2 linked regions of the Homo sapiens genome follow. The protein of the gene in region 1 interacts with the protein of each later gene in a biochemical or structural test. Each region holds a gene or a part of one and is shown on either strand. Other genes may lie near its edges.

Evidence for each region. The genes of interacting proteins can lie anywhere in the genome.
Region 2: the proteins of VPS4A (region 1) and NPC1 form a complex in vitro, tested with the Homo sapiens proteins (one study listed by BioGRID).

Annotation. Positions count from the first base shown.
Region 1 is NC_000016.10:69,314,223-69,321,363, forward strand, and holds part of VPS4A (vacuolar protein sorting-associated protein 4A), read left to right. Parts: intron 1-1,785; coding exon 1,786-1,897; intron 1,898-2,002; coding exon 2,003-2,150; intron 2,151-4,427; coding exon 4,428-4,489; intron 4,490-4,600; coding exon 4,601-4,720; intron 4,721-5,164; coding exon 5,165-5,321; intron 5,322-5,918; coding exon 5,919-6,067; intron 6,068-6,465; coding exon 6,466-6,547; intron 6,548-6,828; coding exon 6,829-7,048; intron 7,049-7,141. UniProt on the Homo sapiens protein: Involved in late steps of the endosomal multivesicular bodies (MVB) pathway. Recognizes membrane-associated ESCRT-III assemblies and catalyzes their disassembly, possibly in combination with membrane fission.
Region 2 is NC_000018.10:23,530,942-23,534,506, forward strand, and holds the end of NPC1 (NPC intracellular cholesterol transporter 1 precursor), read right to left. Parts: coding exon 3,505-3,565; intron 2,577-3,504; coding exon 2,414-2,576; intron 1,344-2,413; coding exon 1,261-1,343; 3' UTR 764-1,260; coding exon of another isoform or gene 684-763; 3' UTR 501-683; downstream 1-500. Other genes in the region: RMC1 (regulator of MON1-CCZ1 complex), read left to right, coding at 684-763. UniProt on the Homo sapiens protein: Intracellular cholesterol transporter which acts in concert with NPC2 and plays an important role in the egress of cholesterol from the endosomal/lysosomal compartment.

The DNA.
Region 1 (7,141 bases):
TCCCAAAGTGCTGGGATTACAGGCATGAGCCACCGTGCCCAGCCCCAGCACACTCTTAGGTGTATTACTAGAATTTCCAAAAGGAGGGAGGGGATGGGTCAGTGCTGCTCCTTATGGGACAAAGAATACCTTCAGTATTGTTCTAAGGATAGACCCAAGCATGAAGCTACAGAGAGTGAAAAAGTCCAAGGTACTGGGGGTGTGTGTTCTGGAGACGAGAAGCCACCAGGGAGAGGAGCGCTGCCTTCCTGTCTCATCTGAAGGAACATCATGCAGAAGAGGGCAGACAAGGGCAGCCTGTGCCTAAGCTCATTTCCAAGAAGGTTTGGGGCTCCCAGCCATTCATTGTAGGTAGTAGAGGGAGCAGAGGCTTGAAAATAATGGCCAGCACTCACCCCTCTTCTCATCTCTTCAATCCGCTGAGTTCATTTCACATCAGCCTGGCCCAGCCTCCCCTGGCCTGTCTGTTTTGTCGAGCTGTCTGTGTGTGTTTCTTTCGGAGACTTCTTCCTTGCAGATAAGAGAGGGCTGAACAAATGCCCCGGCCCTGCCAAGAGCCGGTCAGGAGGTTTATTGTTTGCTGTGCCTGGAACCGTGGGTCTGCGGTGGGACTGCCTGCCTGGTAACTGGTGCCGGATCTGAGGAGGAGAATTCTGGTCATGCTTCGTGCAGGCGTTGGTGAAGCTGCGGTTTTTAAAACCAGGCTTTAAAACCATGTAGGTGCTTTACTGACCGGTCGCGGTGGCTCATTTCTGTAATCCCAGCACTTTGGAAGCCAAGGCGGGTGGATCACTTGATGTCAGGAGTTCGAGACCAGCCTGGCCAACATGGTGAAACTCTGTCTGCACTAAAAATACAAAAATTAGCCGGATGTAGTGGTGGGCATCTATCACTTGAACCCAGGAGGTGGAGGTTGCAGTGAGCCGAGATCGCGCCAGTGCACTCCGGCCTAGATGATAGAGTAAGACTCTGTCTCAAAAAATAATAATAATAAATAAAACCACGTAGGTGCTTTCAGTTCAGCCTAAGGCACTGGCCTACAGGATTTATGAGATTCCCAAAGACACTCATTCTCACAGAGCTCTTAGAAGGTTCCAGAGGGACACAGTTCTCTTCTGTTGGCAGCAGGGAGCAAGCAAGTACTTTTCTTACTGGAGCTACTGGTATGTGGAGCATTGTGTGTAAGCGTCCCTTCCCAGGGTGTCACTTTAGACAGCGAAGGAAACTGTCTTCTCTCTGCAGCCTGGAGAAGCAAGCTGCATGGAGCCAGGAGGAGGAGGAGAGAGGCCTTTCAGTGTATCCTGTGCAAACTTGCAGTCCGGGCAGGACTTTCCTTCTGGCTGGCTCTTCTCTGGCCCTGAGGCCGGGTGCAATTTCTGGTCTCCTTGCTAAACAAACCAGCAGTCACTTGCTCCCGCGTGTCCCTTCTGCCAGGCTCTCAGCTCGGGTCTGTTTCTCTTTCCCTTGAGGCAGCAGAATAGAAAGTCCCATGAACTTGCCCCTTGAGCCCTGACCTGAGATATTAGGTCAGGTTTCCACTTGCTGAAATCCAGAGCGTGGCTTTTAACCGTCTGAGCTTATTGTGAAGATGGCCGGCTGGTTTTCAAAGCCTTCTTTGAAGGCCTTTCTAGCCGATGTTGAAAAAGTAGGCCAATGAAATGGCCCGCAAGCAATAAATCCACAGGCCCAGCGGCATCCCTCGTCACGTTTCATCCCCATGCCTGTGACCCCAGGGACTTTCCACCTCTCCGAGGAAGCACTGAGCCATTTGCTTTGCCTTTCCAGAAAGCCATTGATCTGGTGACGAAAGCCACAGAGGAGGACAAAGCCAAGAACTACGAGGAGGCGCTGCGGCTGTACCAGCATGCGGTGGAGTACTTCCTCCACGCTATCAAGTGTGAGTCACACGAGGGGTCCTCAGGCTGCCGCACTCCAGAGGGGAGCGGAGGAGAGGGGGTGGCGCACGAGCCTCACAGGGGCCCCTCTGTGTTCCCTTTCACAGATGAGGCCCACAGCGACAAGGCCAAGGAGAGCATTCGAGCCAAGTGCGTGCAGTACCTAGACCGGGCCGAGAAGCTGAAGGATTATTTACGAAGCAAAGAGAAACACGGCAAGAAGCCAGTCAAAGAGAACCAGAGTGAGGGCAAGGGGTGAGTGTCTGCAGCGTCCGCCCAGGAACCTGGGCCCTCCTCACGGCTCCCTATCATTCCTGGCGCTCATGCTGCCTTGGACTTCCCTGTGGGAATGGTCCTCATAGTGCAGGGATGACAGTGCCAGCAGCTGCTTTCAGGGAGCATGGCCTGGAGCACTTCCATGTTCACCGTCTCATTGGATCTGACCCACAAGCCATGGGGAGAGGGGGAGCTTGGTGCAGATGGTAGAGCCTCTCAGGACGGGACCCCAGCTCTGTCACCTCCCAGCCTAGTGCCAGGACCCCGTGTGCCTACCATCTCCACATCTTGGAAGTGGGGAGGTCGTGGAACTCACCTCCGAGCGTTGCCACAGGGAGCAGTGAGATGACGTGGGCAGTGCCCTTGGAGCTTGGCACACGAGAGCATGCAATGAGTGCCAGCTGCTGTGACTGTCAAAGAGTCACCTGCCTCCAACAGGTGGGGCGGCCGGCTCGGGTTAGGAGCCCTGCCGAGGTGGCACAGGATGGAACTTGGACCCCCAAAGCAGGGCGGGTGGCCCCGATTCCCCAGCCAGGGTCCTCTCCACAGCCTCTCACCTCAGGTACTGGGTTCGCCCACCACGGTGATCCCAGTCATATGAACACAAATGCTGGTGGTATCTCGGAGGCGTGGGAGGGGAAGTGAGGGGGTCCCCCAGGCAGGAGAGGGGTGGGTGGTGTCAGCTGCCTCACCAGAGGCGAGGCCTCCTCCTGGATGGAGGGTCTGCACCACGTTCCCATCCGCAGAGGGAGAGGTCTGGCGAGGCAGGGGTGGAGGCCAGGGATCTCCAATAAGGATTAAATCAAGTTTTGAGGATGACAGATTCCATCCAGGGAGGAAGTAGCCCTGGGGTGACAGTGGCTGCGTTCTCCCCAGGAGTTCCCTTTCGATTTCGGTTTTGCTTTCTCCTCTGTCCTTCGGCAGTGGCTGCTTTGGAGTCAGGGGCACATGCTGTCCCTGAGTCTCTACAAAAAGCTTCTGGTGCGGGGCATGGTGGCTCACACCTGTAATCCCAGCACTTTGGGAGGCCAACGCGGGCAGATCACTTGAGGTCAGGATTTCAAAACCAGCCTGGCCAACATGGTGAATCCCGTCTCTATTAAAAATACAAAAAAATAGGCCGGGCGCGGTGGCTCACGCCTGTAATCCCAGCACTTTGGGAAGCCGAGGCGGGCGGATCACGAGGTCAGGAGATTGAGACCATCCTGGCTAACACGGTGAAACCCCGTCTCCACTAAAAATACAAAATATTAGCCGGGCGTGGTGGCGGGCACCTGTAGTCCCAGCTACTCAGGAGGCTGAGGCAGGAGAATGGCGTGAACCCGGGAGGCGGAGCTTGCAGTGAGCCGAGATCGAGCCACTACACTCCAGCCTGGGCGACTGAGTGCGACTCTGTCTTAAAAAAAAAATTAGCCAGGCATTGTGGCATGTGCCTGTAATCCCAGCTACTCGGGAGGCTGACGCCAGAGAATTCAGAGAATTACTTGAACCCGGGAGGCGGAGATTGCAGTGAGCTGAGATGGAGATTGTGCCATCGCACTCCAACCTGGGCACCATCTCAAAAAAAAAAAAAAAAAAAAAAGAAGCTTCTGGCAGCTGCATTGTTTGACTGGCTTTTTTTTTTTTTTTTCCCCCAGACAGGGCTTCACTGTCTCCCAGGCTGGAGTGCAGTGGTGCGATCTTGGTTAACTGCAACCTCTGCCTCCCAAGTAGCTGGCACCATAGGTGCGTGCCACCATGCTTGGCTAATTTTGTGTTTTTTGTAGAGACAAGATCTCGCTGTTTCCCAGGCTGGTCTCAAACTCCTGGGCTCAAGCGATCCTCCCGCCTCAGCCTCCCAGAGTGCTGGGATTACAGGGGTGAGCCACCGCACCCAGCCTGGGCTGTGAGAGCCACTGCAGGTGGCCTCCCAGAGTATGAGGTGTGAGTCACCGCACCTGGCCTGGGCTGCTCTTTAAGTCCAGCTGAAGCACATTTCCCTTACGGCCTTCAGGAGAGGGCCGACCCGGATTCCCATCTGCTCCGCGAAGAAACAGGGCGGGTTATAGGAGTGTTTGCTGGGGGGGTCCTGAAGTGAGCTGCTGAGAGCATTGGCCCAAATGTCCCTGAAGTACTTGCTTGAGTCACACGGCACTGTTAAGCCAGGAAGGCTTCGTTCCTTAACCAGTGTGCAGGCAGCGGAGCCTGGACTTGCTGGGAGCACCTCTGTGCTCCAGGCTGAAGGGCCAGCTTGTGACTTTCCGTCTCCCTTCCCAGCAGTGACAGTGACAGTGAAGGGGATAATCCGGAGAAAAAGAAACTGCAAGAACAGCTGATGGGTAAGTGGCTCGCGGCCCTGTGGCAGCGGCAGGGGATGAGAGTGGGTCCGCTGCTGGGTTGGCTCATGCCCCTTGGCCGGGCCCGGGCCCGGGCCGGCCTCCCTCTCGCAGGTGCCGTCGTGATGGAGAAGCCCAACATACGGTGGAACGACGTGGCCGGGCTGGAGGGGGCCAAGGAGGCCCTCAAAGAAGCTGTCATTTTGCCAATCAAATTCCCACACTTGTTCACAGGTGAGAGTTGAGCCATTTCAAACCCCAATGTAAAAATTCCAGGCTTCCGCAGGGCTGGCACTCCGAGGCACCCGGGAGTCAGTGGCGACTCAGCCCCCGGGGCCTGCAGAGGGCCAGGCCTGGCTGCTCGCTGGTGTCCACAACACTGCTGTGGCTGGAGCTATGAGATGACGATCACGTCACAGGGTGGGGGCAGGATCAGGAAGCAGTGCCAGCCGGTGTCACTGTGCAAGGTCATGGGGTCATAGCAGGGGCACTGTGCAAGGTCATGGGGTCATAGCACAGGGCACAGCAGGGAATGTAGCTCCCATCACTTGTTTGCCAGTAGAGTCCGTTGTTTCACAGAATGCCCTGTTTTACTGTATGTATGGGACTCGAGACCCTCTGCTTTTCCTATTCCTTTCCCCAGTCAGGAGGCCTAACTTCTGTGGTTCTCTGTTGCAGGCAAGCGCACCCCCTGGCGGGGGATTCTGCTGTTCGGACCCCCTGGCACAGGGAAATCCTACCTGGCCAAAGCCGTGGCAACAGAGGCCAACAACTCCACCTTCTTCTCTGTGTCCTCCTCAGATCTGATGTCCAAGTGGCTGGGGGAGAGTGAAAAGTAAGTCGGCCACCAGGCCATGCTCTGCCAGCAGCCCCGGCACTGCTAGTGACCCAGCGGCCCACCCTGTGGAGTCACCTCTCAGAGGAGTGGTTTGGTTTTCAGGGAGGGTACCCAAGAGCAGTGTGTCGCTAGCTTATCGGCTGGGACACAGTCCCAACAAAGACAAGTGAAGGTGGAAGGGACCTGGGAGAGGTGAAGTGCTCCACAAGAGAAGGGAAAGGAAGTGAGGATATTTTTGGGGTCTGGGTTGCGGTCCCTGTTGGGGCAGTGTGTGGGGGACATGGTTCCCCACACTGACTCCTGTTTTGCGTGTGATGAGACGGGCTCGGAAGAAGGGGACTGACGTGTTGTAAGTGCAGAGCTAGCGCATGGGGCTCCTGGGATTGAGGCTCTGCGTTTGGGGCTGACACCAAGGTGTGCTCCTCCTCTTGGTGCAGTGTGGCCCGAGGGCTCCTCACCACCACGTTTTCCGCAATTCCGGCATGACCGTGGCCTGCGCCTCCCTGTGGGAAGGGTGAGAAGAGGGAAGTGCCGGGAGCCCAGGCGGGCACGGACGTGAACGTCTTGTCCTCACCCCCTTTCTCACCTTCACAGGCTGGTCAAGAACCTGTTTGAGCTGGCCAGGCAGCACAAGCCCTCCATCATCTTCATCGATGAGGTGGATTCCCTCTGCGGGTCCCGAAATGAAAATGAGAGTGAGGCCGCCCGGAGGATCAAAACGGAGTTCTTGGTCCAGATGCAGGGTGTGTGCCGGGCCCAGGGCCCCCTTGGTTCTTGTTGCACCTGAAGCCAACCCTGGGCTTTATTCTGAGCTGCGGCTGGATTTGGTTGTTCTCAGCCTCGGAGAGGCACTCCCCAGCTCCAGCCCCTCAGGGCACGGGTGGACTTCAATTCCCAAGAGGTGCCTGAGGCCTCTGCCTCACGGGCCACTCCACCCCTCCCATGGCAGGCAGTGCCATAGGTCTCACCTGGCACAGCCAGACCAAGATGTGGTTTAATCTCACTTGGGACCCTGCCAGTGGTGGGTGGCACAGGGATGGCTTCAATTGCTGACACACAAAGCCCCCGGGGTCTGTCCCCAGGTTTCAACTGACCCGTGCAGGTGTCCAGAGTCTGAGTCTTTGTCTCCCTTTCTCCACAGGGGTGGGGAATAACAATGATGGGACTCTGGTTCTTGGAGCCACAAACATCCCATGGGTGTTGGATTCGGCCATCAGGAGGAGGTGAGTCTTCCCCAGGAGAAGCCAGGGCTGGAGGCTTCCTCCCACCATGGTCACGGTCCGCCTGCTGCTGGCAGCCCGGGTGCAGCCTGGCCCCTTTTCCCTGGAGTCTTCCCGTCTGCCTGCCAAGCAGAGCCCTTTGTGAGGCTGGCTTGTTGAGGATGTGCCGCCAGCATCACTGGCCCATGAAATGCGTCCGTTTCACTCAAATCTTCGTGCCTCCCCTTCCGTGAATACCATTCCATCATCCGCTGTCAACTCCTGCCGTGTGCTGGGCTCTCTAGGTTTGAAAAACGAATTTATATCCCCTTGCCGGAGGAAGCTGCCCGCGCCCAGATGTTCCGGTTGCATCTCGGGAGCACTCCCCACAACCTCACGGATGCAAACATCCACGAGCTGGCCCGGAAGACGGAAGGCTACTCGGGCGCGGACATCAGCATCATCGTGCGGGACTCTCTCATGCAGCCCGTGAGGAAGGTGCAGTCGGCCACACACTTCAAAAAGGTGAGTGCCCGCGGCCACTGCTGAGAAAAATCTCATAGTAAGAGCGGGATGTTCGGTTTTTTTTTTCCCAGCTCCTGGTCCTGCTCCCCGGCT
Region 2 (3,565 bases), on another chromosome or scaffold:
AAGGGTCTGGGGCTTATTAAGGTTTCAGTTTTATGAAGTATACATTGGTTGATCATTCTCATTTTTTTTTTGAGACAGAGTCTCGCTCCGTTGCCCAGGCTGGAGTGCAGTGGTGTGATCTCGGTTCACTGCAACCTCCGCTGGGTTCAAGCGATTCTTCTGCCTCAGCCTCCTGAGTAGTTGGGACTACAGGTGCGTGCCACCACACCCGGCTGATTTTTGTATTTTTAGTAGAGATGGGGTTTTACTATATTGTCCAGGCTGGTCTCAAACTCCTGACCTCATGATCCGCCTGCCTCAGCCTCCCAAAGTGCTGGGATTACAGGTTTGAGCCACCGCACCTGGCCCTGGTTGATCATTCTCATCTCCAAATAGTTATACAACCTAAGACATCATCTTTAGGATAGGGAAGGATCAGGGCTGTCTAATGAAACTTCTAGGTCTATTTCTAGCTCAATGTAAGACGGCATTTAGTTACCATAAGGACAGGTTAGATAGAATCTCTTCCATTTAGCTTTTGTATTTGTCTCTCAAAGCAGATAGGGTAACCCCAAAACTTAGGAAAACAATGTATTTTATTAAAGAAAAATAAGTTAAAACCCAGTAGACACACCTACGAGATGCTTTCTTTGTCCCTCATTTCATGCCACATCTAACTGGCAATTAAATCTCTTCCTTTCTAGGGGAACACTGTGAAGAACATGTTGCTTTTTTCAAACAGATTTTTGGAGACCAAGCTCTAATGAGGCCTACAACATTCTGAAATCACTTGCTGTTTTTTTATATAAAAATGTGTACAAAGTTAATTTATTGCATTAATAAAGCTCTTTAAACTATAAAATGTTATAAAGTGTATCTACAACCTCAACTGTCACTAAAAATATGGTATAGAACTTGTGGGATGGCTTACTCCTAAAAGGAGAGACAGACAGTGCATTGATTGGCCTTTACAGAGTGTCAGTGAGCGGATCACATTCACAGCCATCTAGTGTCACCTCCTGCTTGCCAAAGAATGAGGTTTCTTTCCTGAAGAGGCTGGGAGAAGTTTAGTGTCCTGTGGTTGCCTCCAGATCTAGTAATACTGCTTCCCAAGTCAACTGTGCATTCCTGAGTTCACAGGCGCTACGTTCAAAGCTGCTGCCAAACAACCGATGGTTGGCACCATCCGGTGTTCAACTTGGCCTTGCCGATGCAGCACCCGTCCAGTGGTAAACCGACCGACCCTTAGACACAGTTCAGTCAGGATGCCCTGCGAGAGGGCTAGAAATTTAGAAGCCGTTCGCGCTCTGTTCCTTTGTATCGCTCTTCAGTGGCACAACTTTTGGCTTTATTTACTGATGGCCCTATGAGAGAGAGAGACTTTTTCTTATTTCTGCAGGAGAAAGGGAGCTAGTTGGCTGGGCATAGTGGCTCACGCCTGTAATCCCACTTTGGAAGACTGAGGCAGGAGAATTGCTTGAGACCAGCCTGGACAACAGAGTGAGACCACATCTCTCTCCCTCTCTTTTGGAGATGGGCTCTTTGCTTTCTTCCTCAGGCTGCAGTGCAGTGGTATGAACACGACTCACTGCATCCTAAGCCCACCCTTCTGGGCTCAAGCAAGCTTCCTGCCTCAGCCTAACAAGTAGGTGGGACTGCAGACGCACACCACTTCACCTGGCTAATTTTATTTTTGTAGAGATGGAGGCCTCACTATGTTGCCTAGGCTGGTCTCAAACGATTCTCCTGTCTCAGCCTTCCAAAGTGCTCATCTCTTTTTTTTTTTTTTTTTCTTAAAAGGAACTAGTATATTAGATTGTAATAGAACTACTTTCTATCCCCCGGAGATGATAAAAAGCCCCTCATTTTCTTAATCTTCTACTTCAGTGCTTCAATTTAGTGACAAAGCTATAAATGAAGCAAATCAGTATTGTTCTTTCAACCGTGGGTCATTTTTGTGCAAGGTGAAGTGGCCATAGAAGTAAAAGGATCAAGGACAGTCTCGAGATGAAGAAAGGCAGCAAGCACTTTGCTAAGAAACGGGAAATCCATGAGGGACATAAAAAGCTGTTCTGCAGCACTGCTGGTGTGAGAGCTGGCTGCCAGATGGACTCCTTCATCTCAGTGGCAGGGAGGAGCTGCCCTGCCTGCTGACACTCAGATCCATTCAAGGACTGGCTCCAGGCCTTTGTGAAGCAGACAGATCAGGCCTCCAGAAAAAACATCGACAACTTCCTAATAAAGTAGTCTGCACCATCATGAATCCCCTGGATGGGTTTTTTCTTTTAGAAGAAATTTTTTTACTCAGTATCATTTATCATTATCAAATGACCATTAGTATGAGTTCAAATACTTGAAAAGAATGCCTCAGGATAGAATTCCCTTTCAGTAATGTCCTTCTATTGTGCCACCCTTTTAAGATGAGAACTCTTACCTATGTAACTGAGTAAGACAGGGAGAAATATTAATCCGTGAGTGGCTCCCAGTAAGACCATGGCCAAATACATCCTGAAGTAGAATATCTGGAAAATTTGAGATTTGGCAAAAGCCAACACCACAATCCCTCCAAATTTTGTAAGTGTGATTCCACTGAACACCTAAAAGAAGAGATACTGTGTTAGAAACCACTTTTACCAACCTGTAATTGAACAAAAACACTTCCTTACAAGGATTTCTCCCAGGTTCAAGTGATTCTCCTGCCCCAGCCTCCTGAGTAGCTGGGATTAAACAGGTGCACGCCACCATGCCTGGCTAATTTTTGTGTTTTTAGTAGAGATGGGGTTTCACCATGTTGGCCATGGTCTCGAACCCCTGGCCGCAAGTGGTCCGCCAGCCTTGGCCTCCCAAAGTGCTGGGGTTATAGGCATGAGCCACCGTGGCCAGCCCTTATGGGGATTTCTTAATATTCAAGGTTCAAAGCAATGGGAACTGAACCCAGGTAGCATCATCTACTACCTAACACTATTTGCTGCCTTATGATCCTGGGGGAGAGGTATGACCAAGTTAAAAGCTGTGTATTCTGCACAGACACTGCATCGTGTCTCCCAATTGATTATCTTTCTTTATATTCTCAGGTGAAAACTTAAATATTTAAAAGTGTTACGAAACAAAGTTTTAGTTTTTACTCTTTACCAGGTATTTTCTACAGTGGTAAAGAGATAGGCTAAGCCAGGGTGTAGAGTTGAACCAAGACGACTCTCCAGGCACCAACCGCACATCACACGCTGGGTTCTGGCCCGGGCTCCCCTGCATTTTAAATGGGAAAGACTGCCAGCTGTCTCATGTTTAACTTGTCTGTTATTTTCCTGCTTCAGCACACTGCCACCTAAAAAGGAGCCGTACCAACAGGTACAGTTCCACAGAACGTCCGTTCTGTCCACGATGTGGCAGCTAATTCATGAATTGCCTGAAAGCTTGCAATCCTTAGAAGCTGCTTTGTAAGTACAGGATCCAGACTCTTCAGTCACTGAGGAGGATTACTTTGTGGTGCGACTCTGCCGGCGTGGCCCTGCTCAGGGTACTCACGGAGCTGCCCATGTGGGCAAGTGCCTCTTCCGCGCGCTCCACGCGGCTGCCTTTCATGCTC